7 linked regions of the Homo sapiens genome follow. The protein of the gene in region 5 purifies or fractionates together with the protein of the main gene of each other region. This does not show direct contact. Each region holds a gene or a part of one and is shown on either strand. Other genes may lie near its edges. The genes, in order: PIP4P2, XPNPEP3, OMA1, SCCPDH, SLC26A4, TMEM164 and ACBD3.

Evidence for each region.
Region 1: the proteins of SLC26A4 (region 5) and PIP4P2 purify together in Homo sapiens (affinity purification with mass spectrometry; one large-scale study listed by BioGRID and IntAct). This does not show direct contact.
Region 2: the proteins of SLC26A4 (region 5) and XPNPEP3 purify together in Homo sapiens (affinity purification with mass spectrometry; one large-scale study listed by BioGRID and IntAct). This does not show direct contact.
Region 3: the proteins of SLC26A4 (region 5) and OMA1 purify together in Homo sapiens (affinity purification with mass spectrometry; one large-scale study listed by BioGRID and IntAct). This does not show direct contact.
Region 4: the proteins of SLC26A4 (region 5) and SCCPDH purify together in Homo sapiens (affinity purification with mass spectrometry; one large-scale study listed by BioGRID and IntAct). This does not show direct contact.
Region 6: the proteins of SLC26A4 (region 5) and TMEM164 purify together in Homo sapiens (affinity purification with mass spectrometry; one large-scale study listed by BioGRID and IntAct). This does not show direct contact.
Region 7: the proteins of SLC26A4 (region 5) and ACBD3 purify together in Homo sapiens (affinity purification with mass spectrometry; one large-scale study listed by BioGRID and IntAct). This does not show direct contact.

The regions. Positions count from the first base shown.
Region 1 is NC_000008.11:90,999,360-91,002,859, reverse strand, and holds part of PIP4P2 (type 2 phosphatidylinositol 4,5-bisphosphate 4-phosphatase), read left to right. Parts: intron 1-3,500. UniProt on the Homo sapiens protein: Catalyzes the hydrolysis of phosphatidylinositol-4,5-bisphosphate (PtdIns-4,5-P2) to phosphatidylinositol-4-phosphate (PtdIns-4-P).
Region 2 is NC_000022.11:40,884,648-40,888,147, reverse strand, and holds part of XPNPEP3 (xaa-Pro aminopeptidase 3), read right to left. Parts: intron 1,836-3,500; coding exon 1,633-1,835; intron 1-1,632. UniProt on the Homo sapiens protein: Catalyzes the removal of a penultimate prolyl residue from the N-termini of peptides, such as Leu-Pro-Ala. Also shows low activity towards peptides with Ala or Ser at the P1 position.
Region 3 is NC_000001.11:58,480,727-58,484,226, forward strand, and holds part of OMA1 (metalloendopeptidase OMA1, mitochondrial precursor), read right to left. Parts: intron 449-3,500; coding exon 239-448; 3' UTR 1-238. UniProt on the Homo sapiens protein: Metalloprotease that is part of the quality control system in the inner membrane of mitochondria. Activated in response to various mitochondrial stress, leading to the proteolytic cleavage of target proteins, such as OPA1, UQCC3 and DELE1.
Region 4 is NC_000001.11:246,758,909-246,762,408, reverse strand, and holds part of SCCPDH (saccharopine dehydrogenase-like oxidoreductase), read right to left. Parts: intron 3,376-3,500; coding exon 3,258-3,375; intron 2,453-3,257; coding exon 2,333-2,452; intron 2,239-2,332; coding exon 2,182-2,238; intron 1-2,181.
Region 5 is NC_000007.14:107,712,828-107,715,568, reverse strand, and holds part of SLC26A4 (pendrin), read right to left. Parts: intron 147-2,741; coding exon 123-146; 3' UTR 1-122. UniProt on the Homo sapiens protein: Sodium-independent transporter of chloride and iodide. Mediates electroneutral chloride-bicarbonate, chloride-iodide and chloride-formate exchange with 1:1 stoichiometry. Mediates electroneutral iodide-bicarbonate exchange.
Region 6 is NC_000023.11:110,174,114-110,178,288, reverse strand, and holds the end of TMEM164 (transmembrane protein 164), read right to left. Parts: 3' UTR 2,517-4,175; coding exon of another isoform or gene 2,472-2,516; 3' UTR 2,374-2,471; coding exon of another isoform or gene 1,891-2,373; 3' UTR 501-1,890; downstream 1-500. Other genes in the region: uncharacterized protein LOC124905230, read right to left, coding at 1,891-2,373, 2,472-2,516.
Region 7 is NC_000001.11:226,152,242-226,155,741, forward strand, and holds part of ACBD3 (Golgi resident protein GCP60), read right to left. Parts: intron 2,737-3,500; exon of another isoform or gene 2,593-2,736; coding exon 2,406-2,592; exon of another isoform or gene 2,362-2,405; intron 379-2,361; coding exon 94-378; intron 1-93. UniProt on the Homo sapiens protein: Involved in the maintenance of Golgi structure by interacting with giantin, affecting protein transport between the endoplasmic reticulum and Golgi. Involved in hormone-induced steroid biosynthesis in testicular Leydig cells.

The sequences.
Region 1 (3,500 bases), on a different chromosome or scaffold from region 5:
TGCAGTTTCTTTCTTCTGTTCCTGAGTCTTATCCTGCTAGACCTAGAATGGCCTGGCTACTCCTTTCCTTGCCCTTGTCTACCTAGAAAACACCTATTTAACCTAAAAAATTAGCTGAAACATCCCTTGCTTCTACTCTTCATCTGTAGAAACATTCTGTGGCACAAAGGTTATTCTGCTGCTTATTCCTTGAACAAATTTTCTTTTCACACCTGAACAATTCTAATGTAATCAGCTGAAATGACTTACTCCCCCATCTATTCACATTTTAAGCTATCCTTAAGTCTTGTGTAATAAAGCCATCCCTGGCTGCCTTGTCTGAAAATTGTAATGTAAAGAACATTGTTTGCCGCCTTTTCCCCTTATAAATTCCTGTAGCACTAGCTACACTACCATTTTCCAGGTGTTCTTCATAATCCTAGTGTTTCATAAGGTGTTTTTGTGAAGCGAAAGATTAATAATTTGAAGAGTGAATAGTTAGATGTTTGAGAGCATTGAATGGTCTTTTCAGCTTGGAGATTCACTGTCCACATTTTTGTATATGCCCTTGACTTTCACATGCAGTAATATAAAAAACCAATTAGCTGTAAAAATCATCCTTTTAAATGCATAGCTCAGCTCATATGACAGTTGGGGACCAAAAATGAAGATTAAGTGACAACCAGGACTATCCTGAAGGTATATGCCAACACTAGGGATCTACAGCCTTGGAAGAATGAGAGAGAAGGCATTGGCCTCACACAAGGTAGCGGGGTTAGAATACTGCCTCCTCCCAATAAAGTACTTAAAGTACTCTTCCCCTGGAAAAGAGTGAGTTAGGAAAAAGAAATCAACCAGAAAAGGAAGATTGCAGAGGAAAAAATTTATAAGAACAGTGAATTTAGGTTTATATTTTTATATCACTTATGCGATCTAGGAAAACCTAGTTCCAGAAACTGACTTAAAGTTTAGGGTTAGTATCAGTCTAGGGAGCCTGCGAAAAGCAAATGAAAGTTCTGTATGTAGGAAAGCACCCCCAAACTATGCATGCCAAAATTTTTTTATATTGAGATCTGCCAAAATAAGTTTTCAACAAAAGTTACTAGTCATAGGAGAAAACAAGATTCCAGAAGCATAATCAACATTGACAACAAACAGCATAATTAGACCTCTAAAAACTTCAGATTTATAATTATTAAATATGGAGTATGTTAAAACTATGCCTAAGATGTTTTAAAATAAAAATAAGAGAAAACATGTAAGACTATTTAAAAATTACCAGGTACTCACAGAAATGTATATGTGAGTGTTTGTAGCAAATTTGACACATGCAACAGCTTGGATGAATTGAATTTATGCTGAGTAAAAAAAAAAACTTAGCCATACAAGGTTACCTGCAGTAAGATTTCATTTATGTAACATTTTTCAAATGACAAAATTGTAGAAATAGGGAACAGATTAATGATGGTGTGGCAGGCACAGGGTGCGGGATGGGCAGAAAGGAGGGTGTGGTTATAAAAGGATCCTTACAGTGATAGACTGTTCTCTATTTTAGCTGTGGCAATAGATACATGAACCTAAACGTGATAAAATTGCATAAAATTAAAGAAAAATCCATACTCATATACCTGAGAAATCTGAATATTGGTGGATTATATGAATGTTAATATCCTGTTTATAATATTGTATTATAATTTGCAAGATTTACTATGGGGGAAATAGGGCAAAACGTACATGGTATTTTTATGTGTTATTTATTACAACTGCTTGTGAATCTATAATTGTCTCAAATAGAAATTTGCAAAAAATAACCAGATAGATATAGAAAGAAACAATAGAACTTCTAGAAATTATTACAGAAATTAAAATGCACGTACGGTTTAAAGAACAGATCAGCTAAAGGTGAAGACTAAAGTTGTGAATTGGAAGATAGAGGTAAGTGAATTACCCAGAATCTAGCATAGAGAGACAAAGATGAATGTAAGATTAAGAGAAAATATATTATTAAGATGCCAATTATATATCTGATCTGGAAGGAACAAATAAAGAATGGGATATGGCATTTTAGGAGATAATCTCAAATAATTTTCAGATCTATGAAAGATATGAATTTTTATATTCAAAAAGAACAATGAAATCCAAGCAGGATAAGTAAATGTGTTACAGTGAAATTGTAGAAAACCTAAGAGAAATAGAAGGTAATTAAAAGCAGAGAGACAAAAGGCATATTTTCAATAAGAAAAAGATAACAGTTCTGTCAGCAAATGTCTCAACAGCAAAAATAGAAGCCAGAAAACAAGTTTTAAAATACATCAAAAATACTAAGAGAAATTAACTGTCAAACTGGTATTATACACCTATCTAAACCATCAAAGAATAATGAAGGTAAAATAAGTATATTTTCAAAAGCAAAACCAACAAACTTACAAACAAAACCCAGGGTATCTACCATCCTGGTACCCTTACTAAAAAAAAAAAAAACTGCTAAATGATGAACTAGGGAATATGAACAAATATTCCAGAAGAAATTTCTGCAGTGCAGGAAGGAAAGGTAAACCAAGAAATTGTAACAATTCACCAGAAACACTGACTGTATAAAATAGCCAAAACGACAGTACCAATTATATTAATGCTAATAAGTTTTGAGAAACAAAAATACAATAAAACTGAAATATTGGAAAACAGTAGCATTAAGATGCTAGTGGAATGTTTGGTGTTAAAACTTTCTAAAATCTTTATATTTATCAGGAAGATGGATTTAATAATTGACTTTAGTTTTTAAAACATATGAAAGTTAAAATTTTAAGTGCAACTGCCAAATGAATGAAATAAATTGTAAAACTTTCAGAATAATAAGAGGAAAATGAAATGAAAGAGTCATGGTCAATATAAAAGAAGTCTGGAAATAAAGGTAGAAAAGCAGAAAATACAGGAATAGTAGAAAGCCAAAATAAGGTGTCAGAAATAGTCCATGTATATCATTAGACTAATCTTGCTAGTAAAACTTAACAGTAATGGTAAGACTAGATGTAAGAACAGCTATATACAATTTGAGGAAGGAACACATGAATATTAGAACATAGAATGAATGTATAAGGATAGAAAAAGATACAACCATAAATCACTAACCAAAGGAAAAGACATACCAGGCAAACACTAGCCAACATTAAAATGTAATGTTAATATCAATTAAAATAACAGAGACTGCTGTTTTCTCCTTCCTTTTATTAGTAGACCTCTGAATTTGACTAGCCACTCAGCTAGAGATGGATTTCCTAGCCTGTCTTGCAGATAGTGTGGCCATCTTTAAGTTAGGACCAATGGAATGTGAACAAAAGTGATGAGTACAGTTTTCTGATACTCTCCTTAAAGACAAAATTGCCTGTCTTCGTTTTTTCTCTCCTCTTTGAATTGAGTGGAAAAGCCAACTGGCAGGAATGTTGTTACCTGTGTAGAGTTTGGCAATACCAATCAGGGAGTACAGCTGACTACCAACCCTAGGCTGTACATTTACCTTTAAG
Region 2 (3,500 bases), on a different chromosome or scaffold from region 5:
TAGGTAGATTCACAGAGAAAGTAGAGGTTACTGGGGGCTGGAGGAGGGGAGAATGGGAAGTTATTATTTATCTGTACAGTTTCTATTTGGAATGATGGAGAAAGTCGGGAAAAAGTGGGCACAACAATGTGAATGTACTTAATGTCATTGATTTGCATACTTAAAAACGGTTAAAATGATATATTTTATGTTATGCACATTTCACCACAGTAAAAAGATTTTTTTAAATTAAGTCAATGGCCAACACCTTGGAGAGAATAAATGAAATAGGGAGTTTTGGGATAGTTTCTATCAGTTTGCCAGTGAGATTTATGGTTTACACTTGGTCTCTGTGAAAACTCTCGGGGGGCTTTACTGTTACGTAGCAGGAATATGATTATGTGACCAAAAAAACAAAAATCCCTAGCTGAGATTCCATTTTGGAGTCTCTGATTCTGAGGTAGTCTGTTGCATGTGCCATGGACTGAATTGTGTTTCCCGCAGAATTAATGTGTTAAAGCTCTAATCTCTATGTCTTTAGGAGGTAGTTAAGGTTAAATTAGGTAATTAAGGGTGGGGCTCTAATTTGATAGGACCATGGCCTTGTAAAAAGGCCCTCTTTCACTGTCATGTAAGGACACAGCAAGAAAGCCGCCTTCTGTAAGCCGGGAGAGCCCTCACCAGAAATGGACCATGATGGCACCTTGATCTCGGACTTCCAGACTGCAAAATTATGAGACAATACATTTCTCTTGTTTAAGCCATGCAGACTGTGATATTTTGTAATGGCAGCCTGAGCAGAGTATGACAACACTGGTGATTCCTAATCTGTAAGAGAAAGATACATCCTGCCTGGCCCTCACCTAGGGAGGACCAGAGAAGCCTGCACCTGGCTTCTCTAGACTCCTTGCTTTGAGACAGCCATTGGCTGTGATATATATCCTTACTTTCATATTATGGTTATTTTTTACCCTTTTCCTATAATAAACTGCAGATCTGTAAGCATTGTCACTTTGGGTCCTGAGTCTTTCTTAGAACCAAACTGTTTAACTGACACTATTAGTGTAACTATAAGGAAAAGAAACAGTATTAATTTCTGTCGTTCTAAGGAGAAATAATTAAGATTGATGGGTAAAAGAACCATCTTAACAGAAGGCAGATTTACTTTGTCTTGCAAGGTATTAAGCAAGTCTCTAGGTATGTTCACTACACACTGGAGCAGAAGCTAGATGCCATTCTGCGGTGAGGAGACTGCTGCATTGGGTATACGACCTCAAGAGCTTACGATTTTTCCAATCTGGAAAAAACTTTTTCTTTTTTTCTTGTTTTTTTTTTTTTTTTTGAGATGGAGTCTCGCTCTGTCGCCCAGGCTGGAGTGCAGTGGCCCGATCTCGGCTCACTGCAAGCTCTGCCTCCCGGGTTCACACCATTCTCCTGCCTCAGCCTACCGAGTAGCTGGGACTACAGGAGCCCGCCACCATGCCCGGCTAATTTTTTATGTTTTTTTAGTAGAGACGGGGTTTCACCATGTTAGCCAGGATGGTCTCGATCTCCTGACCTCATGATCCACCTGCCTCGGCCTCCCAAAGTGCTTGGATTACAGGCGTGAGCCACCGCGCCCGGCTGGAAAAAACTTTTCAATAGGAATCATACCTGTGATGTCAGCTTCCCAGCAATCTGCATTCGTTCAATTTCTGCAGGAGACTTGATCAGCCGGAGGCGCTGTATCAGCTGCTGAACACCCCGAACCTTGTTCTTGCTCTTGGCTTTGGCCTCAGTCAGGGGCTGCATATAGTCAGAGTGAAGCTGTGCATGTGAGGGCCTCATCCAGTCATACCAAACCATGTTCGTCTCAGCTTAGAATGAGAAGCCGAAAAATAAATTTAAAACAAAACTACCAGCAACAAGAAATATCAACTGTCATAACGACTTGAACAAGAGTCAAAACTATAAAACCTGTAACGTGGAACTCTAAAGTGTTGAGACTTAAGACTCTCTCAGGACTGAAGCAATAAAGGTTTGATTATAAATCATTAGAAAGGTCATTCCCTGGAAATGGCAAGATATTCTAAGACTGAATATACAGCTTTTCTGCCCCTAAACTTCAGTGTTCTTTATAAAGGATGATACGGGACTAAAGCTTTAGTCAAGCTTTGATTTTCTCTCTTTCTCTCTCTCTTTATTTTTGAGATGGAGTCTTGCTCTGTTGCCCAGGCTGGAGTGCAGTGGCACAATCTCAGCTCACTGCAACCTCCGCCTCCCAGGTTCAAACGATTCTTCTGCCTCAGCCTCCCAAGTAGCTGGGACTACAGGTGCCCGCCACCATGCCCAGCTAATTTTTGTATTTTCAGTAGAGATGAGGTTTCACCATATTGGTCAGGCTGGTCTCGAACTCCTGACTTGTGATCCACCCGCCTCAGTCTCCCAAAGTGCTGAGATTACAGGCGTGAATCACCATGCCCGGCCTTCATTATTAAACAATTAGAACAACTGTTCTTCACCACCACTTACTGAGCTAGAGGCACTTGTTGAATAATTGCACACAGAAGGACAGAAAAACATACTCAGATCATGACTTTATGGGTAAAGTGTCCCATCCTTTCACATAATGATCTCAGTACTAGAGGAAAGGGTTCTCCTCCCATTCTGGAGCAATTATTCATTGCTATGGAAAAACTACAGTTGATATTTCCTCACTTCTCCCTTTGCATCTGCTATACATTCTCTTTGTAAACAATCACAGTTCAGCTTTCAACTTTAGAGACCTAAGGAAATGGTCTGTATTTGCCTAAGATATACGATATAAAGGCTCATTATAAAAATGATTTGCACTTAATATCAGATCTACATTTGTTCTTTTTTTCTAACAGTAGGCTACAAACAGTATTCCTAACAATCCAAGTGAGAAGGTCTGAATATTTTATATGACTAAAAAGTACTTTGGGGAAAGTAGAGGGGAAAAAATCCAGAAAACTTTGATTGGATATGCACTGATTCTATGATTCTATGTCCTATGTGATTCTATGTCCTACATATTTTCATTTTTAAAATAAAAATGGTTCTAAATATATACTACATGGGAAACACCTTCCTACTTACGATAGATGGAAATTTAATTGTCGTGTAATTTTTTTTTTTTTTGAGACGTAGTCTTGCTCTGTCACCCAGGCTGGAGTGCAGTGGCGCGATCTCGGCTCACTGCAACCTCCACCTCCCTGGTTCAAGCAATTCCCCTGCCTCAACCTCCCAAGTAGCTGGGATTACAGGCGCATGCCACCACGTCCAGCTAATTTTTTCGTATTTTTAGTAGAGACGGGGTTTCACCATGTTGTCCAGACTGGTCTCGAACTCCTGATCTCAGGCAATCCACCTCCCTTGGCCTCCCGAAGTGCTGGGATTACAGGCGTGAGCCACTGCACCCGGCCAATTGTTGTAATTTTTAAAAAGTAAAACAATCTCTACTACACGTTCAAAGTGTATGAAATCATAGCTCACTTTTTTAAAGGTTTTTAAACCTTTCA
Region 3 (3,500 bases), on a different chromosome or scaffold from region 5:
GTAATATAAATTTATTCTGTGACATTTTCCTCATTGAAGATATTTTAACATAGATTAAAATACATCAATATTTCATGAAAAATAAATTCTAGAAGAATTTAGATAATATCTGTAATGTACATGATTTGACCCTGAATATCCTTTTTTTTTTCACTTCAAACATCATTTTTTAAAAAGTAACATAAAATGATAAGGACTGCAACATTCTTCATATATCTTGTGTCTCATAAATTTTAATTCAACTGCCCGTTCTTTTCTCAACTATGTATGTTAATGGTATTTGCTCCTGTTTTTGAATAGGAAGAGTATCCATTTTCTGTTTCTTCGTGATATTTAGGTCTTCTTTCTCTGATTCTTCAAGAAAATGCTTCGTGCTGAGTTTGAATAGTAATCGAGGGTCTGGATTAGACAGTGGTGGACAATTACACATCTCTCTAATTTTGAGAGCCTATAAAGAAATAATAAAATAAAAAAATACTATATATATACATCAATGTATTCAGATTGTTTCAGTAATCCCTAATATGCTCCATGTAAAACAAAGAATGTATTGTTATTTTTTTAATAAAAGGTATCTTGATTATAACACATAAAAGAGAACCACTGAAAAATCTACAGTGAACAGTTGTTTTCATGATTTGGTCAAATAGTATTATTTTAAAAACAACAACAATAGTATTAATAATCTGTAACAACTGCCCTAATGCTGTTTTGAGGGTAAACAAATCTTAGAGATACATCTATGGTTTCAGTTAAACTCTAGCAGACCGGAGAATCATTCAGATTTAAAAAGGCTCTATGAGAGATTTTTTTCAAGAAAAACTGCAGAACATAGATGACTGAATATACTGAAAAAAGATATACATAACTGATACAGTCTTGGGTAAAATTGATGATAATAACCTAGTGATATGGTTTGCATATGTCTCCACCCAAATCTCATCTTGAATTGCAGTTCCCATAATTCCCACATGTCATGGGAGGTAACTGAATCATGGAGGTGGGTGTTTCCCGTGCTGTTCTCATGATAGTGATTAAGTCTCACGAGATCTGATGGTTTTATAAAGGGCAGTTCCCCCTGCATATGCTCTCTTGACTGCCGCCATGTAAGACATGACTTTTCTCCTCATTCGCCTTCCACCATGATTGTGAGGCCATCCTCAGCCATATGGAACTGTAAGTCAATTAAACCTCTTTCCTTCATAAATTACCTAGTCTCAGGTATGTTTCATTAGCAGCATGAGAATGGACTAATATACTTAGAAAAGTAAACAAATCAAAATCATGACAATTTTTAACTCCAGGAGAAATAAAACATTGCAAAGGAAGGAAAAGTAATCACAGTGTACTATGGGGCTCAGCTATGACTAGTGCTTACAGTTTAAAATACCAAATCTTGATGAAACCAAAAAGTACAATTTCATCATACTGAGAAGGGGAGAGCTGCATGTGTGTGCACATGCACAGGGTGTGACACTGGAAAGAGAGGGCTTACGTCTCATCCTGTAAGGTGGAAAATAATTAAGGCCCAAAATTGAAGTTAGAATGTAGCAACATAAGCATGTTATTTAGACACAATGGGAAATACTAAAAGAATCGTCCAATAGAATTGGAAATAGTTACCCCTGAAACTGATGGCAGGGTTGAGGGACTGGCTGCTGATTTAAGTAACTAGCCTTAGAACTATTTAACTCTTCAAAGTGGGTATATGGATAATTTTAAGATATAAGAGCCAAAATAATTTTTAAGGATAAATGGTCTTAATATTTAGGAGTTTTAAAAGAAAGACATTTAGGGGAAAAAGCTAATTCAGTTTTTTACGACTTCTGGCTTTCTGATACTGATGTGTCTTAAGGGAAGTAAATAAGGCAGTAAAGGAGACAGTGTTTGAGGGACTGGTAAAATCTTAGAAAGACTATCCAGGCAAGGCCTCACTGATAGGATAATGACTTTGGGGGTCAAGAGGGGGACAGACCTGAAGGACATGAGGAAAGAGACCATGTGGCAACCTAGGGAAAAATCATTCCAAGAGGGAGCTGCGAGTACAAGGGAGATGGGAGCGTGCCTGGGGTGTTTTGGAACAGTGAAGAAGCAGGTACAGCCGAGTGGAGCAGGGTGGAGGGCAGGAGCAGATTATGTAGGACCTCACAGGTCATGCTAAGGATTTTAAGTTTTACTCTAAACAGCCTGCCTCTAATATTTGTGGGGTCCATGGAAAGAATGAAAATGGAGGCCCAGATACCATGTCTCTAAACACCTAAAAGCAGTAAGTCAAGCTAATACACTACTACTTAAAATCTGTTCTATTCTCCTACTTTGAAGAATACACATTCGAAATTACCTGGAAGTCCAGGTACAAAACTAGAATTCTTGAATTTCAGAACATGTAAGATTGCAGGGAGCTTACTGTGTAGCTCTTGCCACTAGCCTGCCATCTGCCCCCTCTCCCAGCCCTAGCTTATCTGGCACTGTAAAGGGCCTTGTGTGAATGTGTTCAAGGAAGAGGTCCAGATGGGCCCTGAAAGCAGGCTCAAACATATCTGGGCAAGGAATTCCATTATTCCAGATACCCTGAGTGGGGTATGGTAGGGGCACAGGTTCTTGTATGCTAACATTTCATTGAGTCCCACAGGAGAGAGGGACTTGTAGTCAGATGCGAGCCAGATAGACGTTCTCTAAGTGAATGGGGTCAGGGCAGAAGCTTGGGTCTAGGAGCACTTCTAGCTCTGATTAGGCTCTGAGTTACCAAGGTAAGCTGGAGAGTTGAAAAAACATTACTTAACGTGAAATTCTTCAGTGGCAGTGGTCTTGTCTTATTTTTCTTTGTATTTCACAGCAGATTTAAGATTTCCTTATATCTAGTGAGTGTTAAGTAAATGTTTAAGTAAACTGAATTGACACAACAAGAAAATGTTTCCCAACTATAGCACTTACAGCACTTAAGTAAACAGAAAGTCAGATCCTCAGCTAAACGGTGACCTACTGTCCAAACTGGGATACCTTTGAGAATGAAATGAGATGCTAGCAAGATTTGCACTGAGACATCAGGCATGAGCCATGACTGTCTCTGCAAAATTGGGACGTACGGTCACTCTTGCATTAGTTCCTTTACAATGATGTTAATTTTCTTTCCCAAGTGAGAAGTTTACCTGTCATGGCTGCTATATCAGTGTAGTGCCTATGTTTAAGCACTGCACTGGCATCAGTAAAGGGGGAGAGTATGGAGTCCAGCAGGTAACAACTGGCACAGCTGAGTGTGGCAATGAGAGATGCAAAGCAACAAAGAGAGGAATAGGATGCCATCCCCTAAGATCTTTGTGTATTCAGTAAAAACTCTTCTCTTATCCTTAAATTCGCTTATTCAGTCTTTTTAATACAACAAATATTTAGAACACCACAGTGAGTAAGGTGCTAGGTACACATTGGTCAGAATAGTCATGGTCCCTGCCCTCATGTAATTTACTTTGTATTTCTCCGTTACTGGGCATTAGAATTGTTCC
Region 4 (3,500 bases), on a different chromosome or scaffold from region 5:
GGAATGCTACGAAAAGTTCAAGCAAGAGATGGAAGCCTGCACTACCAACCACGAGACAGAAGCCTGCACTATCCACAAAGTAAAACGGCAACCCAAAGAATAACAGAAAATATTTTCAAGTCCTTCTGTTCATTTTTGAATTAGGTTGTTTTTTGTTATTGAGTTCTAGGAGTTCTCTATATTTTCTGGATATGAATCTTCTGTCAAATATATGATTTGAAAATATTTTCTCCAAAGAAGACATACAAATGGCCAATAATTGCAAATGAAAAGATGTTCAACACTAATAATCATCAGGTAAATGCAAATCAAAAATACAATGAGACACCACCTCACGGCCATTACAGAAAATAACAGATGTCGGTTTGGAAGCAGAGAAACTGGAACTCTCGTATACTGCTTGTGGGAAGGTAAAACGGTGCAGCAGCTCTGCAGAACAGTTTAGTGGTTCCTCAAGAAGTTAAATATACAATTCACATACGGTCTAGCATTCCATTTCTGAGTATATGCCCAAAAGAATTTAAAGCAGAGTCTTGAAGAGGTATCTGTACACCCATGTTCGCAGCAGCATAACTGGCAATAGCCAAAAGCTGGAGGCAACACATGTGTTCACTGATGAATGAATGGATACACAAAATGTGATCCAGACAGGCAACAGACAATCATTCACCCTTAAAGAAATTCGAACACATGCTTACAATATGGATGAACCTTGAAGACCTTACGCTAGGTGAAATAAGCCAGTCACAAAAAGACAAAGACTGATTCCATTTACATGAGGCACTTGGAGTCATCAAATTCATAGAGACAGAAAGCGGAATGCGGTTGCCGGGGCTGGGGGAGGGCGGAAATGAGGAGTTATTGTTTCACGGGTGTAGAGTTTCAGTTGTGCAAGATGAAAAGTGTTCTGGACATGGATGGTGGTGATGGCTGCACAAAAAGATGAATGTACTTAATACCACTCAGCATTTTTAAATGGTTAAGATGGTACATTTTATGTTTTGTGTATTTTACCACAATAAGAAGAAAAAAGAGGCCGGGCGCAGTGGCTCACGCCTGTAATCCCAGCACTTTGGGAGGCTGAGGCAGGTGGATCACGAGGTCAGGAGTTCAAGACCAGCCTGCCCAACTTGGTGAAACCGTGTCTCTACTAAAAATACAAAAAAATTATCCGGGCGTGGTGGCGCATTCCTGCACAGTGCCTACATTAAGTGCACAGGCGGGGGATTAGCCTTGTACAGGGAACATATCATCCAGAGAGGAGGAAAGAAGGTCGGGATGGAACAATGATGCTACGTTAAGTGCACAGGCGGGGATTAGCCTTGTACAGGGAGTATATCATCCAGAGAGGAGGAAAGAAGGTCAGGATGGGAACAATGATGATAGGTCTGAGAGTAGGAATTTGAGGGGATACAAAACAGTGCTCTCAATTATTTTAGTGAGGTAGGAGTTGGGATAATTTACAGATAGGGAAGACAGCTGCAGTTGGGTAGATTTTGAAGAAAGCCACTGAGAGGAGATAAGAGGCAAGACTAACGAAAAGGAAAAGAATCAGCAAGTGATGCTAACATTCCACAGAGGGGGAAACGGGAACTTGCTGCTACCATCTGTTCAGCAGTGGGATTTCCCCCAGGAGTGCCTGGTGTCAAGGAGATGAAAGCTAATGACCCAAGGCCTGAGCCAGGGTTGGGATCTGTAAGCCAAACGGTAGAAAATGAGGCAGTCCTATTGTTGGGGATGCTGGACACACAGAAATTCACTTGATCCCCCGTCGGAATCCAGGGTATGTGGAAGAGGAAGTGAAACTGGGGGCAGAGGAGGCACAAAGGAAAAGATAACAGAGGAGAAAAATGGAGGAAGAAGAATATTTGAGATTTCTGGAAGTGAAGAGAACACAATTTCTGGAGCTAAATGGCTGGGTTCTCATCCCAGCTGGGCCATGTACTACCTGGAGAAACTTGGGCAAGTTTCTTAGCCTCTGTGTGCCTCAGTTCTCTGATGTGTAAAATGGAGATAATAATAATACCTACATTCAAGGGGTGTTTGAAAAGATTGAATAATCTAATTTACATAAAGAACTTAAAAGAGTATCTGAAACATAGTGCCCTGTCAAGTGTTAGATGATACCGTCATTGCACAAAGAAAAATATTATTTTAGTGTCTTAATACAAAAGAAATTACCTGTTTTTGTGTTGGGCCTTGTTTTGAAAAATAGCCAAAGGAGAAGAACCATGGGAACTAAAGGGAAAAAAAAACCGTCAGTGATATTTTTTTAAAACTCATGGAAAATACTTCTAATAAAAATAATCTAATTTCATAAAATCTTACTTACTTTTATGAGAAGTTGCCTTCCAATTCCAAACCTCACAAAGAACAAAAAGAAAAGTCCTGCAAACATCAGCTTAATAACAGAGGTGATGCCTCCCACAGTTACATACGCAGCATACTGAACCTAGATGATGGAGAAGACAAAGTTAGAACATTACTCCCTACATTTTGGACCAAGTAAGAATGTTAGTTACTTGTACCTTTCTCTTCCATCACAAATGTGGAACAAAAGCAGTTTCCACTTTACAAATGCATTATGTTCTGAAATCTTGTTCAGAAACCAGACATTGGGAGCCTATTTTTTGTTTGTTTTGTCAGACCTGGTGAACAGGAAGTATGATAGTCTACTTTTTAAAGAAAATTGTTTATAAATAGTAATTAGCTTCCCCTACTTGGGCACAAAAATCTACATAATCCCTAATATATCTGAGCTTAGCAATCATACATTACAGAACGTAGACTCCTATAAGAAAATGCCCTCCACCTTTTAACTTGAAATATAATTTCCTCCTGAAGTCTCGGCAATGAAAGCAATTACTTTCCTCGCCAAAAGCAGCAGGATGGAACTCCAGGCGTGGCAAGGAGAGAGGGGACAGAAAGGGTTCCAGACATTTCCACAAGCAAAAGAGTTTCTAGCAACTGAAACCCTAAACAGGGATTCTGGGGTGCTTATGACAGCAGGATTTCCCGTATTGAATTTGCTGCTATTGTGTTACATTAAAAAGATATTCAGCAGCCAGATCTGAATCAAAAGACAAGGTTATAAAATACAAAATGTTCTACCCTAATGATTCTGTGTATTTCCAGAGGCTGAAACATGTATTACTTAGCTCTTCCTTTTTCTGCCTTATAAACAAAAATATCCCACACTGAATAGAAAGAGGAACTGTAACACACACTTTATTGATAAATAAACCATATATACTTACTGGTGATTCCTCTAAATTTTCATACAAGTAACGTTGAGTCCTCCTTACAACAGACACATCAGATCCCATAAAAGGAATGGAATAACCTTTGAGTTCCCGACAATAAGAAATTGGCCACCTGCAAGACAGACCTATGAATATTTTGCATTTCCTGCAATTACAACTTTGGCTGGTAAATGTCTGAATAAGCAAATCAGTGGCAGGGCATGGTGGCTCATGCCTGTAATCCCAGCACTTTGGGAG
Region 5 (2,741 bases):
TGCTTCTCTTTCAATGGCTTAATAGAAAAAAGAATGAGTGTTTTGAGTCTGAAGAAATAGTCAATGCATTGAGGAAGTTTTGTCTTGTATTCCTTGCTCATAGAGACCTCCCGAACCCACTTTCAGGATGCAAGTGTACGCATAGCCTGTGGAAGCAAGGGGAAAACAAAGTGTTGATACAACTGAATTCTCCTTAAGTCTGCATTATCTTTTTTATAAATATGTTTTTATAGTATTGATTGCTTACTGCTACTCATCTTAGGTGTATATCATCACAATAGAAATAGGGTAAAAACTTCATTTCGTATTCATTATACTTTTTTTTTTTTTTGGAGACTGAATCTCACTCACTGTTGCCCAGGCTGGAGTGCTGTGGCGTGATCTCAGCTCACTGCAACCTCTGCCTCCCAGGTTCAAGCAATTCTCCTGCCTCAGCCTCCCGAGTAGCTGGGATTACAGGTGCCTGCCACCACACCCAGCTAATTTTTTTTTTTTTTTTTTTAGTAGAGATGGTCGGGGGGTTACCATGTTAGTCAGGCTGGTCTCAAACTCCTGACCTCAAGTGATCCCCCTGCCTCAGCCTCCCAAAGTGCTGGGATTACAGGCTTGAGTCACTGAGCCTGGCCTGTATTCATCACACTTTAATTGGATTTATTTAAGAGCAATGATTACTATTTATTGAGCACTTACTATGTACAAGGCACTGCTCTTGTTACTTTACATTTATCCTTTAATTTTCACAACTCTGTGGTATTATTACTACTTTACATGAAGATACTAATATGAAGACAGGATAAGTAATTTGCCCTGGGGTGCACAGCCAGTAAGTAGCAGAATGAGGACTAGCACCCAGGTCTGTCTTGTTCTAAAGTCCATGCCCTTGAAACTATTGTGCTATATTGTTTTACCATCTATAGAAACCCTCCCTGAATGATTATTTTACGTGGCAACCAATAAATATCCTATAATATAGCAGTCTTAAGTTTTAATGTTGACATATGAGTTTTTACTCAAACTAAGGCACCCTATATCCATAGAGTCATAAACTACTGGAGCTAAAAGGACTTCTCAGGTCGATAATGACTTTCCTGGGCTCACTAAGCTGGTGGGCCAAGATGCAGGTACTGTGATTTTCACTCTAGCAATGTATTTCCTCCACAGAAATCTCTGCCTGTCATCCTTACTGCCTGATTTCACTATAGGGGGTTGAATGTTTTCTTTGCAACATTTTTTCAAGACCTAGAAAAAGGCAGAGAAGGCAGGCTTATCAGATTTGATTATGACACCAGGTAACGGGTACTGGGGTAGACAATATCCTGGATGTTAGATTCAAAACACAAAACTGGCCAATGTGGTGGCTCATGCCTGTAATCCCAGCAATCTGGGAGGGCAAGGCAGGTGGATTACTTGAGGTCAGGAGTTCAAGACCAGCCTGGACAACATGGCAAAACCCTGTCTCTACTAAGAATACAAAAAAAAAAAATTATCTGGACGTGGTGGCGAGCGCCTGTAATCCCAACTACTTGGGAAGCTGAGGCACACGTGAGAATCTCTTGAACCTGGGAGGGAGGGATTGCAGTGAGCTGAGATTGTACCACTGCACTCCAGTCCAGGTGACAGAGTAAGACTCAGTCACAAATAATAATAATAATAATAATACTAATAATAATACAAAATTATGTCAGTAAACAAGAACCAACAAGATGAAATCCAGCAGAAATAGGTGTAGTTCTGTATTAGGGTCAAAGCTCAATTAAATAAATATAACTAGGGAACTCTACTAGACCATAGCTTGTATGAAAATGCCCCAGTCTTTAGTTGGCCCCTGCTCAATAGAAGCTAAAATTCTGATGTTGCTATTATGAAAGGAAACACATTTTTAAGCTGTAGTAATAGGAATATCTTGATGAGATCAAGGTAGGTCATGGTTGAATAATCTCCATGCTGGCCTGGCCGCATTTAGGGTTTTGTGTCCCCATCGTGACCAGAGAAGCACTGACTGCTTGTTTGTAAGGAATAGAAGGAACTAGAAGAGTCTCAACTGGAAGAGAGTCTGCTGGAGACATGAGAACTATTCTCAAATATTTGAAGGGCTGTTCAGTGGGAAGGTCTGTGTTGCTAAGGAAGGCAGATCTCAGTTCACTAGGTGGTTACTACAGAAAGGCCAAATTGAGTTCTGTAAGCACAAGTAACATTTAGAGACTTCCAACCATGTAACAAACTCCCTTGAGAAGCCGCTAGTGGCCAATGTCTGGAAATGTTCACATAAAAGCTGAATGAACATTCATCAAGGATGGTGTAGGAAGGATTTCTGCATGGGCTAGAATGTTAGACTACTTGATTCTAAGAAATCTTTCAACTTTTTACAATTCTGTGATCTTCCTTCAGTGTTCACCTCTTATCCAGTGGCGAAGCTGCAAAATTTACTCAGATGCTACAAGTTCAGACAAGTTTCCTAGGAATAGTCTGATGTCACAAGAGCATCTGAAATACACAGAATCAGTCTAGGGTGGGGAGAGTGTGTTTTTAAAGCCTTTATCAGTCATATGAAGGAAGGTCATAGGGTTTCTGTTCCTCACATACTATTCCTGAGGCTTATAAAGTTCCTAGCTTAGAAGTTTCCTCTATTCATTTTTTTCCTACCCCATGGCCTTACATCTCTAGAAGAGCAGTATGCAGAGGTGTAGGTATCAAATCAGGAGCAGTGTGTTGGCTCTTGCCAGTTGCTGATCATCCCCAAA
Region 6 (4,175 bases), on a different chromosome or scaffold from region 5:
CTGTGTAAAAAGGGCCAATCACAGTCATCATGGGCTGCTCAGCAGGTAGCCTTGGAAAAGCAGGTCTGCTTCCAAAGGGTAAGGCTATCTTGTTCATGGTCCGACCCATGCTGGGTGCAGGCCTGTGCTGAGAAGTGCTGGTGCAGAGCTGGCCCTCAGGAAATCTAGGTTGAGTGGGCCTGAATGTGTTTGCCTTCTCCAGCTCAGTCCTCCAGCCTAGCCCAATGCACTTTGGGTACCAGAGAGCCCAGCAAACGTGCCCGGCAGACAAGCCCTCTGCTAAGAGCAAATGGCCTGCTGGGTCCCTGGCAGAAGTAGGCAATGTGTGGGAATTCAAGGGCAACCAGCCACGCAGCTCCCAGGACAAAAGTGTGCTGAGAAAGCCCAGCTGTCCTTTGAGGGTCTTCCACAGTACGGAGGGCCAGAGGCCCCTTTTGTCTATTTTTCAAAGCAGAGGGCCTTCTGAGAGGGTTCTGGGAAGCAAGGCCAGGACTCCTGGGTTCTCATAAATCTTTTAATAACAGTAAATGAAGAAACATTATAACAGTAAGCCCCATGGTGAGGGTTCCTTTTCATTCAAGGATCTTCAACAACAGAAACACCTGAGACTAAAATTCAGAATGCTAAGTACACAAATTAATGACCATTTATTTCCAAAGGCGACTGCAGATACCATTTCGGTACAATCAAAAGGTTTTACAAGACAGAGAAAACACATTACAAAATGCCCCAAGAGGTGAGCAAACTGGTGGGGGCACAGAGCACGCAAGAACCAGCCTGACAAAAATCCTAAGCCTGCTGCTGTTTAGGGAGAGTACAAAGACTGGTTCTAAGGGAAGCCACTGTGTGGGGGTTCAGGGGAGACAGTGACGGGTCTGCCCAGTGCATAGCAATCCCAGCTGGGAACTGAGGAAGGACAGGGGTAGGGGAAGAGGGGCAGAGGCATTTGCTAAGCTCCTGACAGAAACCATTACAGATCAGCCTATCACATTCTCTTCACTACAATAACACCAATATAAATGAAAGATTCTTTAAAATAGAACACAAAATGGACACCAAAAGAAAGCAAGAGTTTTCAAAACAACAGCTTTGTTTGAAATGACTTTTGTTTTGTTTTATTTTTCATGGGGCTTTGTCTGTTTCTTGCCATGAGTAGCAAACCAGTGTACAAAAATGTCACAGACGAGAGCAACAAGCGACTAGGTTTTCCTGAGCCCAAATCAGCTCACTCTATATACACAAAAGGAGGGCTGCCTCCCTGTCACTGACTCTACCCGCCACAAAGCGGGCAGGATGGGCAGTGGGGGGAGCTCCTTCCCAGCCTGGGGCCTTGCCAAGGAGCCCACAAGGGCCTGCAGGAGACCCTCCATAATCAGCGTCAGTGTCTTGTCTAACAGCATCACACATGGTCCTTTTTTCCTCCTCCCCTACCTCCCCTTCAGTAGAAACCAGTAAGAAAATCCTCTTCAGGAGGGGACAGAGGACTCTGGGTCAACATCTACAAATCCAAGGAAGTCTTTTTGGCAGAGGGAAAAATGGCCCTTCTGCCACTCCCTGAGCCACCTAGCTTACCCCCAGGGCACTGCCCTGCCCCAATACCAGTGCACAGAGACCTGCTGACAACTTGCTCTCTGTGGGGAGCTGTGCCCACTTCATAGGACACTGAATTACCAATGATCACAAATATAAAAACCTCAACAGAGGCTACAGCAAAAGGGGTGATCTGACAGCTAGACTGAGGTACTGTACGGTAAAGTTCGCCGATCACCCTGGTTAGCCCGGCGACCCTGCAAGCAGCTTCTATGAATGCGATGAAGTTTGAGGAGAGAGAGAGAAAGAGATTGCTGACTTGGGGAGACTGAGTCTGTGGCTTCAGAACCCTGCATGCCTTCACAGGCTGACAGAGGAACATGTTACTGTTGTGCCTCTGGGAGGAAGATGGGCCAGATCATCTTTGGTGTACAAAACCAAATACTGAGGGCAGGGAGGACCAGAAGCAGGCGTGACTGGGTCTCTGCTATTTGGAGTGGATGCCACAAGTTGGCCAGCTCCACAGACTGTTCTTGGCCCACATCCCTGGCCAAGGCTACCTAGGGGCTGGAGGGAGTACTCTTTTCCCTTCCTAAGGCCATTTGAAAGGAAACTGCCCTCTTCTACAAACACCCTCACACACGCGCAGAGCTCCCACACGCTGGCAAATGGCACACGGAAACCTGGCTGGGGAACTGGCTTGGCACTGACAGGAAAGCCCTGAGGAGGAGCTGGGAAGACAGCCCCACTGGCCACTGGGTGTGCAAGCTCCAGCTTCTCCCTCACTCCTGTACCAAAGCTGGGGCAGTAGAGGGCCGGCACAGGGCAGATATGAGGGCTACCCTATAAGGTGGGCTACCCTGTAAGGCAGGCTGCCAAGAGTCTGGTTGGGTTGCTTCTCTCCACGTTGGCTTGGCCCAAGATAAGAGTGAGATCTGGACCAGTTCAGATGCCTTATGCTCCCCAATGCCCCAAATACAGGCCATGGCTCCTTGTGAAGCCTATAGACTGGGCCCCCTCTATTCTTTTGACCTACATGTTTCTGAGCCAATCTGGCCCCCAAAAGCCCTGCATGCCCCCTTTACTTCTTCCTTCCTCTGACAGGTGGATCTGTCTCTGGCTTGGCCATGCCAGGCATGTGGCTTTTGCTTTCTTCTCTCCTTCCAAGCACCAGAAAGTGCCCTCCAGAATGGGGTACTAAGCTGTAGACAGAGCAAAGGCAAGCTTGTGGAGGATGTCAACATGGGGAAGGCTCGAGCAACCAGGCAACCTGTGCCATGCCACAGAAACGAGGAGGAGGAGAAGGCCTACACAGTCACACCCCTATGACATTCCGGAGCTAGTCTTCAGCTGAGGCACAGATCCTCTGCTGGCAGCAACTCCAAGTTCTGGTGGAGGACAGACCAGGCCCCCAGGGGCTCCTCCCACAATCCCCTTCCAACTTCTCCTTTTGTAAAGAGGCCAAGGGGCACTGAGGCCTTGTGTATTTCCTCATCAGCTATTCCTACATGTAGCAGTTTGACGGTGGGCAGGGCCAATCCAGCCATTCAAGGAGCACCTTCCCTGGAGGGCCACCCTAAGGTGAGAGGCACTAAGAAAAGTTTGGCCCTGCCTTCAAAGAGGGCCAAAAACAAAGCTTACGCATCAAAAGGAGCTCAGGAGAGTAAGAGCACTTGGTGCCCTCCCCTCCTGCTCCCCAAGCCCTGGGGATTGATAGCCTCAATGCCCGCAGGCCTCTGCAGAAGGACGGTCCCTCCCAGGGTTGCTTCCTATAGGTCCACTTGCTAAAATTATGACCACTGAGGCACCGAAGCTCAGTGTAGGTCAAACACGGTCAAACTGGAAATACTGGAACTGGTCTAGGTCAACTGTGTTGCCTAGAGTGGGACAGGGGAAGGGAGGCTCATCAGACAAAATCACCAAATGAGCTTTTCTGTTCTTAAGCAAATCTGTTCCTAGTGGGAGTCAATGTGGAGTCAGCAATGCCCAGCCACTTCCTGCCTGCTTGAGGTCCGTGCATAACTGAGCTGAAGTCCTTCAACAAAAGCTCCTCCTTGTGGAGCACCTGAACCTCCACCCATGAGGACTTAATTCTTTGGCAGCCCCCTTTCAACCTAGACATGGGATTTGGGGGTAGACAGGATGAGGAGGACGTGATGTCCCCCACATTAAACAATTCAGCACTGAGTGTGGATACACTGAAGAAATCTGGCCCTAGGGAAACAACACTGGCCCTGTAAAACCAAGAAACAGATCTACAGAATCTTCCAGAAATGGGCCCTGATGCGAGGATTCTCCAAACTCAAAAACCAACCAACCAGCCAATTCCAGCTCATTCTTCCCTGAAGCTGCCTGAGAGAGGGAAAGAGGGAGGGAGGGGGGAGGGGGAGGGGTGGGGGGAGAGGGAAAGGGAGAGGGAACACATTTAAGGGGCACTCAAGATTAAAATGGTATCTATTATCAACATTTTCCTAAAACAGAGTGTATGATTCAAATCACAGTTTTCTGTGCTCACTTCTGATTGGGATATGCATCAGTTCTCAACTCTCACAGGCAGAACTTACACAGGGTCTGGCCTAGTACTGTATATATCTTGACCCTCTTCACTTTGGATTTGTCATTGCAATAGATCTCCAACCCTCTCA
Region 7 (3,500 bases), on a different chromosome or scaffold from region 5:
TCAGGAAGCATAAGGCTGGGTGACACCTGAACTATGTACCATTTCTGCCAACACACAACCCAGCAGCTACTGAATATGGACCAAGGGTTCTACCTTCTTCCTCCTCGTCGTCATCGCTGGACTCACTGACATGCACGCTGACAGCAGTGTTTGGAGAGTCTGTCCATTCAAAATACACCCCAAACCCAATGTCATAATTGTCTGTGGCAAATTCCCAAAAGAGATATGATCCTTCTTCATGGGTGGGTACTCGAACAGTGACCACTTCTCCTCGGCCCACTGTAATCACGGAATCTGCATCCTGCTGAATCTTCTCTTTGAAGTCTTTGATCTGAGGTCGTGTCCACATGGATGGAGCTGCTATTACTGGAAGAGATTCTAAAGGCAATAGGTATTAAAAAGCTAAAGAAAAAGAGCCTTCACCCTGCAGGTAGCCACATTTTCATAGCACTACCTGATCAGTTGTACTCAGGCACCAAGTACAATATGGTCTAGCTTAGATCAAGGACTTGGAGGAATAAAAAAGCCTCCCCATGGGAGTCTCTCCAGATTACTATGTTTAACAATGTTGCAGGCACTCAGAGGTCATCGTACTTCTTCAAGTAACAATGGCAGCCCACAATTTTAGAAACGAATTTTTTTCAACACTCCCTCTATGGGGATTCAAGAATGACCTTGGGAAGGCCCCAGCTGGAGTGAGGGAAATATTCTAGCAAGGAAGAGAGATTCTGGCTTTAGGAATAAATTACTCTTGTGGATGTGAACAAAGAAAGCTGGACTTTGACTTCAGCCTGTCTGTTGAAAAATTCTTCACCTCCAACTATCCCAAAGTTCTAGGGGCTATTCTAAAGGAGCTCAAAGAAACAAAAACTCGGACAGGATTAGAACCACTAGGGACTGAGAAAAAGGGGTAAAGTCTTGTTACTGAGCAGTACCTATGTGCACTTGACTATGCAATAAGTTTTTCAAAGTTAGTCACAGAGCCTTTGAAATATTTTCTCTCATTTGAAGATGCTAGTATAATCCCTTGATAAGAAAAAAAAAGGGAAGGGGGCAGTAAACCAAGGGATTTCAAAGCCTTTTCTGAAGCAATTATTACTTGTTCTAAACAGACAAGGAAGATCTCTGAAACCAAATTTCTTATGAACCATACCACCATCCCTGACCACTGTCACTGAAATGCTCTCCTCTTCCTCCTTACTTAGTTAACTCCTCTTGCTTCAGATATCTCAGGTCAATTGTCCCTTCCTCTGGGAAGCCTCTGGTGGCCTCTCTGACTAGGTCACACTTCCCTGTTTTACATTCTCTCAAAGATAATGTACCTCTCTCTCCATCACCGTACTTATCACAGCTACAATCTACATTTTCTGTGTGTTATTTTGCCTCACCACTGTACTCCTAGCACTCAGGAAACCTTCAACTAATTGCTGAATGAACAAATGAGCTGCCCATGGAAAGCTAGTAGAGCTTTGAAAATGCAGTTATTTTCTAGGCAACATGATACATTAGTCTCAAAAATATATCTATTTCTATGGTAGCCAGCCTCCAAGATGGTCCCCAGAGATTCTCACCTCTGGGTCTTCATGCACTTGTGAGGTCACCACCCACAATATATAAGGATTGGTATGTGTGACCAACAGAATATGGTGGGAGTTCCAAAGTCAAGGCATAAAAGACACTGCCACTTCTGCTAGGGGAAGCCAGTAACTGTTTTGAGGACCCTCAAGAAGCCCTATGGAGAGGCTTCATGGGGCCAGGAATTGAGCTTCCAGCCAAAAGCCAGCCATGTGAGGGAACCATTTTGGAAGCAGATCTTCTAGTCCTGGCATCAACATCTTGACTGCAATCTCATGAGGGAGCCTAAGTCAGAGCCATTCAGCTAAACTGCTCCTGAAACCCTGACCCACTGAAGCTGTACAAGATAGTAATAAATGTTTATTGTTATTTCAAGCTACTAAATTTAGGTGTAATTAATTTTTGTTTGTTTTTTTTTTGAGAGACAGTCTTGCTTTGTCACCCAGGCAGGCGGAATCATAGTTCACTGCAGCCTCAAACTCTTGGGCTCAAGTGATCTTCCTGCCTCAGCCTCCCAGAGTGCTGGGATTACAGGTATGAGCCACTGCGCCCAGCCTGTAATTTGTTATGCAGCAATAGATAATTTATATATATATATATGACAAAACATAACTTTTGTCTTAAAAGTGTCCAAAGACATCTGATTTGCTCTTCTACACTGGTCTATGAGTCACCAGAGCATTAGATTCAGACTAAAAAGAGTAAAAAAATGTTCAACTCTCACAAATATGTAATTGTTCTCAAAAGCTAATTATAACCTGACTTCATGACTTTTGCCTTTCACAGATTTGGAATTATGACATCTGGACAAACACATATGCAAAACCTACCTTTTGGTCCATTCTCCAGGGCTTCTTCTGCAGCTTCTGGTTCCAGTTCTTTTTCGGAGCTGTCAGTGTGTGTTTTGGCCTGTCCATTAACTGACATCATATTACTTGGTACAGTTGCATTCACTTTTGATGATGTAGGCAAGGAAGACCCAGCCACTACTACTTCCTGTTGTTTCTGTAATGCTGCCTACAAACCAAGAGAAAGTGAAGACACACTGACCAGGAAGGCTAGCAAATAAGACATCTGCCCTGGAGTACATCTGATACCATGCTTTTGCCCTACCAAAGTGCTATGCTCAAGAAATTACTAATAAATTTTTATCAGTTTTTATCCTGTCTATAATGAATATTATTAGTACAATATCAAACTGACAGCTAAAAATAATAAAAAATCAATAAAAATTAATGTGGACAAAAACCTGCAACTAAGGCTCACATTTCTGTGATCTGAGAATCACCATAAAAACTAACCAGGAAAAATGAAAGTAAGGCCAGCCAAAGTGGCTCACACCTGTAATCCCAGCACTTTGAGAGGCGGAGGTGGGTGGATCATTTGAGGTCAGGAGCTCAAGACCAGCCTGACCAACATGGTGAAACCCCGTCTCTACTAAAAATACAAAATTAGCTGGGCATGGCAGCACACGCCTGTAATCCCAGCTACTTGGGAGGCTGAGGCAGGAGAATCGCTTGAACTCGGGAGGCGGAGGTTGCAGTGACCTGAGATCGTGCCATTGCATTCCAGCCTGAGCAACAAAAGCGAAACTCCATCTCAAAAAAAAAAAAAAAAAGTAGAAATAATCAACCCAAAATAAAACTATTAAAGGCAAAAATTGAACACAGTAATGTGCTCTTGAAATTGATGGAAGAAAAAAATCTTGATAAACTTTAAATACACAAAATTTGAATTAGAAAAATTAAACTTGGTGGGAATAGTCACAGAAGAAAATTCACAAAGGCAGAAGCTATAATTGGCAAAATCTGGTATGGGCCCCCAAAGCAATAAAAAAATCAAATATGGACAATTTATTCTAACATAATTGACCCCAAAAAGTCAATAAATTAAAACTTCAGGGAAAAATTATGATCACAATGAAA